2 linked regions of the Homo sapiens genome follow. The protein of the gene in region 2 interacts with the protein of the main gene of each other region in a pairwise test. Each region holds a gene or a part of one and is shown on either strand. Other genes may lie near its edges. The genes, in order: PMP22 and TSPAN12.

Evidence for each region.
Region 1: the proteins of TSPAN12 (region 2) and PMP22 interact in binary tests that used the Homo sapiens proteins (3 or more experiments, as listed by UniProt).

Annotation. Positions count from the first base shown.
Region 1 is NC_000017.11:15,229,279-15,231,802, reverse strand, and holds the end of PMP22 (peripheral myelin protein 22), read left to right. Parts: exon of another isoform or gene 1-722; coding exon 723-886; 3' UTR 887-2,024; downstream 2,025-2,524. UniProt on the Homo sapiens protein: Might be involved in growth regulation, and in myelinization in the peripheral nervous system.
Region 2 is NC_000007.14:120,805,813-120,809,850, forward strand, and holds part of TSPAN12 (tetraspanin-12), read right to left. Parts: intron 881-4,038; coding exon 737-880; intron 1-736. UniProt on the Homo sapiens protein: Regulator of cell surface receptor signal transduction. Plays a central role in retinal vascularization by regulating norrin (NDP) signal transduction.

The sequences.
Region 1 (2,524 bases), on a different chromosome or scaffold from region 2:
CCTTCTTTGGGCTTCAAATGCAACCTTGGGGCACCCAGGGAAATGGAGCTTGCCTTTGATCATCTTCCCCCTCTGCAGCGTGGCTTCCCAGTCATACTGTCGGCTGCATCCTTATTCCTCACTTTCTTTTTCCCTCTCCACACATTTCTTTGTCTGTTTGGCAGTGCCCATAGGCATTGCTTGCTTCACCTGGTATGTGGCAACTCTGTTAGGGGGACCATAGGCCCCTGTGGTCTGCATGGAGCTTAATCCTTTTACCATGGCGTGACTCCAATAATGGTAAAATGTCACTTCACTTCCATTGGCTTTAGGTAATGCCACCACTCACTTGTAGAGTGGCATATAGATTTCCAGGGGTTTCCATACCCAACCACCCTTGGAAAGAGACAGGTAGGTTTTTCTTGCAGCCTGAATGCCTGCTGGCCATGTAGTGTGGCCTGGGAATTGGTGACAGTGAAAGAAAGAGAAATAGGGCAGAAAATGTAAAGAAAACCCTCAGGTATTAAGGCCTAGGTGGCCAAGATTGGAAATAGAGAGCAAGTTGTTTTCCTTGTTCCCATATTTTTGTGCTACCTCCTTTCAATTCTGGACCTGGAAGCAGATTTCCTTCCAGAGGTAGAAATGTTCTTCCTACCCAGCAATTGTCAGCATCCGGGGTGGCGGAGAGGGGGCCGCTCTGCCATGGACTCTCCGTCACCCAGCTTGTCCCTCTCCTTCCCCAGGTCTGTGCGTGATGAGTGCTGCGGCCATCTACACGGTGAGGCACCCGGAGTGGCATCTCAACTCGGATTACTCCTACGGTTTCGCCTACATCCTGGCCTGGGTGGCCTTCCCCCTGGCCCTTCTCAGCGGTGTCATCTATGTGATCTTGCGGAAACGCGAATGAGGCGCCCAGACGGTCTGTCTGAGGCTCTGAGCGTACATAGGGAAGGGAGGAAGGGAAAACAGAAAGCAGACAAAGAAAAAAGAGCTAGCCCAAAATCCCAAACTCAAACCAAACCAAACAGAAAGCAGTGGAGGTGGGGGTTGCTGTTGATTGAAGATGTATATAATATCTCCGGTTTATAAAACCTATTTATAACACTTTTTACATATATGTACATAGTATTGTTTGCTTTTTATGTTGACCATCAGCCTCGTGTTGAGCCTTAAAGAAGTAGCTAAGGAACTTTACATCCTAACAGTATAATCCAGCTCAGTATTTTTGTTTTGTTTTTTGTTTGTTTGTTTTGTTTTACCCAGAAATAAGATAACTCCATCTCGCCCCTTCCCTTTCATCTGAAAGAAGATACCTCCCTCCCAGTCCACCTCATTTAGAAAACCAAAGTGTGGGTAGAAACCCCAAATGTCCAAAAGCCCTTTTCTGGTGGGTGACCCAGTGCATCCAACAGAAACAGCCGCTGCCCGAACCTCTGTGTGAAGCTTTACGCGCACACGGACAAAATGCCCAAACTGGAGCCCTTGCAAAAACACGGCTTGTGGCATTGGCATACTTGCCCTTACAGGTGGAGTATCTTCGTCACACATCTAAATGAGAAATCAGTGACAACAAGTCTTTGAAATGGTGCTATGGATTTACCATTCCTTATTATCACTAATCATCTAAACAACTCACTGGAAATCCAATTAACAATTTTACAACATAAGATAGAATGGAGACCTGAATAATTCTGTGTAATATAAATGGTTTATAACTGCTTTTGTACCTAGCTAGGCTGCTATTATTACTATAATGAGTAAATCATAAAGCCTTCATCACTCCCACATTTTTCTTACGGTCGGAGCATCAGAACAAGCGTCTAGACTCCTTGGGACCGTGAGTTCCTAGAGCTTGGCTGGGTCTAGGCTGTTCTGTGCCTCCAAGGACTGTCTGGCAATGACTTGTATTGGCCACCAACTGTAGATGTATATATGGTGCCCTTCTGATGCTAAGACTCCAGACCTTTTGTTTTTGCTTTGCATTTTCTGATTTTATACCAACTGTGTGGACTAAGATGCATTAAAATAAACATCAGAGTAACTCACTGGTCTCTCTTGAGTTTTTGTGGGAACTTGGGTGTGGGTACAAGGTGCCTGTTGGAGCAGGATGAAGAGCTTCAGTGGAAAGCAAAGTTGAGCTGGAGATTTGGGTTACAAGATGGTGCTAAGGCACCAAAATCATAGCTGTTTTACAAGCTACAGGGAGCACATGATGCCTTCATGATGTCTGTGCAAAGGTTTGCTAATTGGAGACAGTTGGGAATTGCAGCTGAAATGGAGGCTGTAAATGGACTGGAAGGCACTTGAGTATTCATTTAGTTCAACCCTCTCTGGTGCTCTGTTGTTTGATGACCCACATGGAAAACATGGAGGCATGTCATGAGCTGCCCTGATATACTGGGAATGTTGGCAGAAGCATCTCAGATCCCTCACCCTGAGGTATGATATGGTGAAAGGTCTGAATGATGGTGACTTGAGGCCACACTTGCAGATAAAACATTGGTTGGCACCAACTAAGCTCCTAATGCCATCCTGAAGGAGAGAA
Region 2 (4,038 bases):
GGCCACACGTAGCTATTTGGCTGCTGTAGAGGACAGTGCAGTCTTAGATTTTAATCTGAAAATAGAATTTTACTGCTAACAAAGTCTGAAAATAATCAGTAAAAATGAATGAATAGGAAAACTTCTGCTAAAATGGAGTAATTGATTATTCTGATCAATTCTCCCAGAAAACACAAGTATGTAAATTTCCTGGCCACATGAGGATTGACTTTACCGCCACTGAGCATAAAACTTAATCAGTGAACTAAAACTGACATCACTAATCATTAGCCAGCAGGGGGAGCTGGAGAGTAGCATGGTAGCATTTTCTTTGGAGAGGTTCTTTTTTTTCCCCTTCTATGTGTTGGTGGTCTATGTGGAGGCTCTTAAAATACGTATTCTGTCCAGGAACTCCAAACCCTCTGCTTCTTGCACATCCAGTGTTAGCTACATACTCTGCCTGTGTCTGTTTCAAAGGATCCCCAAGCAGTAGGAACTTGATTCAAAACAAAACAGTTCAAAATCCAATTAATTACAAAACCTGGTCTTTCCCACTTCCCTTTATTAAAATGTGATTAATGTTTAGATTTTTATATTGTTTTTTAGCTTTCTTCTGCTTCTCCCCATATTAGAGAAAAATTTTAAGGCCTTTTACATTTAGACAGAGAAGGAAAATTTCATTGGCATATTGTTGATTCTTTAAAGTTATTCCTAAGAAAACATTTATCCATAATAAATTAACCATATATGGCCTCACCTCTTGATAAAGGTCACTGAGATCTTCCTGGTGGGCCTGTTTGGAACATCCTGGGAATTCTCTAACACAGCAGGAATCTGGGGGCCAGTCCATCTCTGTCATTTCCAACCAGTCAGTGAAATATACTACTCCACAGCACTTAAACTGCAAAAAAAATCACTAGTCAGCCTCAGAAACCACAAAAATATTTTCTTAACTTATAGGAGATTAAACATCAGTTTTTTAAAATTTTTGTACCCAGAGCTATATCTGTCATCACCTAATGATATATGTACAGTCTATGTTGATGATAGAAATGTAGTAAAGGAACACCATGGCTAACGATTGCATAATGGAAGTATTCTGAGTAATAATGCCCATAACACATAAAAACAAATCAGGCATGACTGAGACTCACTCCCTAACTGTAAGCTCATCTACAAGTGACTATACATAGCAACAGATTGAACATACACACTAACAAACCCAAGTAGGTGACACTTTAATCATTAAACCTCTAACCACCAAAGGCCAGTTAATCAAATTTTTCTATTGCCCAACATATTCAAATATTATATTAAAAGTTTCTGTAATCTTTGTAAAAACATGTGTTGACCAAAGCCCACATCACAAAAAGTTAGCAGACATCGATTCCTTAGCTAGTAAAATATCCAAAAACTTTAAGAAATAAACATAGGTCTGGCCAACTGGTGTTTATTCAACTGAGTAAGATTCTTGAAATAAATGTTCATATTCTATTACCATAATCTCAGAAGAAATGGTGTGTGTGCCTTTAGCTTGAATAAAATTGGATTTAAGAAAAACTATACTGACATTTTTACTTTTTTATCTTATTTCTCCAAAGATTAGCAAAAACTGTCTCTGATCAAGGTTTGGAAACACTGCTTAAGGACCTCTATAGATTAGATTCAGAACAATTAACTATGATGAATAATTTTCTGTCCTTGAGTGGAGAAGGAGGTTGCTCTTTCCCCTCTAGCCAGAAACAAGGACTATGGGCAGTCACTGAGAACTTTGCCAAGAGTGACTGGCTATGCAAATTATGCAGTCCAACAGATCAATCTATGTCCAGGTTTGACATTGCATCATAAAATATCACAATCCCCCACCATTTCAAAATTTAACTAAAATTAACTTTGAAGAATTCCGAACTTCTCATGCAAAAGGAAACAATGAAAATACCACAAAGTATTTTGCGTTGTTACACTGGCCTAAATGTCTGATTTTTAAACAGAAAAAAAAATCATCTTAAGAGTATTATAAATGACGAATTACTGAAAGCTATGGGTAATACTGAAATTTTGAGAAACTTAAAAAATACTTTATATATATTTTTCCTTTTTAAACTTGCTCTCAAAGTCATGAGTATACTATAAACATCACAAATTTAGTCAATAATTTGATGTCACATATTTTACATAAGACATTAAATATCCTTAAATAATATATGTAGTATAAAGACTTCACTTCATAAAAATCATAAACAAGGAAAGGTTAACTTTCCAAGTCCATCTTTTTAAATTCTTGCACTCAAAGAAAATCCATTTGTCTCCTTTGCTAATGACATGAGTCCTTTCTGTGTTGATGACAGAACAGTTCTTGGAACTCTCTAGCTCCATCCAGCAAGGAACAGCCTATTTATATGGCTTTGTCAGGAAATAAGATATTCTACATAAATGACTTTCTCAAATATAAGTATATAATGTTCTTTCTCATTATAAGTATACGATGCTCAGTGCTGAACTTACTTTTATTTTAGAAAGCATTTGTATATAATTGTCCTTCTTCAACAGAAGATAATGAATTTATTCTGAAACTTTTTCTGAAAACTCCTTTAAGTAAGCCCAACATCATACCAACATATTACTGTGGTCTACATCTCCTTGTCATTTTCCTGTCTACTTTAATATCATATTGTGAGATAGTACTACTCTTGCTAATGTGTCAAGCTCTAGAAAATACCATCCATTTTACATATGAGTAAACTGAGGCCTTTGACAGTCAAGTAGCTTGCTAAAGTTACAGGCCAGAGTGTGGCACAGTCTATTCCAAAGCCTATGCTCCAACTACTATGTTAAAATAAATAAATAAACACATTTTTTAAAGTTAGTATTCTAAAAACGTATTAAACAAACGTCACTGGGGCTTAAGTGAGAGTCCGCTAAGTTGCGGTATGTGCATAGAATTGCACTGAATGAGGAGCAAAGGAGACTGGCACCTGATAAAGTTGCTTTCTGCAATACAGGTTATTCTAGAATTGGGTCCCCCACCCAAATGCATATGTTGAAATTCTACCTCCCAGTACCTTAGAATGTGACTGTATTTGGAGATAGAGTTTATAGAGATTGTTGAGTTAAAATAAGGTCATTAGGGTGGGCCCTAATCCAGTATGACTGATGTACTTATTAGGAGAGGGTATTTAAATATATATATATATTTAATATATATATGGAAGACATAGTGAAGACACAGGGAGAAGATGGCCATCCGCAAGCAGTCATTGCAAACTAATATAAGGGATATAAGGGATTTTAAAAACCTCAGGTTCTCAGAAGTCTTCACCATCTCCATTTACATAAAATAGTCTTATGATAATGGAGGAGGAAACTTACCATGTAACAAATCTAAAAATAAGTGTGCTATCATTTGCAGTACTTGTACATTGTCCATCTAGGTGCAGCTTCCATCAGAAAAAAACTCACTTTGTTTTTTAACCTGGATTATCACTGTCTACATCACAAATTCCAGAAAATAACGAGCTCTGGGCAGCATCTACTCAGGACAGTAGCTGACATAACTTACTATAAATTTCCTAATGCTTATTTTCTCTTTGTGTTGTTTTTAGCACAAATATACAATAAATAAACAAAGTTAGGAAGCACTTAAATAAACAGGAAATCTGTGTTACAATGATAATTTTTACCATCTCAACAGTTGTACACAGCCAGATTTGGAGATTGTCCTGGACTTGAACCTCTGCCCATATCCAGGACAAAGTAAGTGAGCAGAGATCTTGCTATCTATCACGTAAGACACTAATTCTCAAATGCTTTGCGGCCTAGCACTAAGATAAATTAAAGGAAACTGAAATACTTATCCATCTGGGAATGTCACTTCAATCACAAGGAAACTGCTTGGAAGAAGAGCTTGGTTTGAAGCAAGATCAATGGTTAACTCCAAGTCACCAAATTTTAAACATCTGAATACAGTCCCCACTTGAGAAGATGGTTGGGTGCAGTGCTACATGGCGGTTAGGTAAGAAATGCTAAACGCACCTATACTTTGTAATGTTATTGTTAATA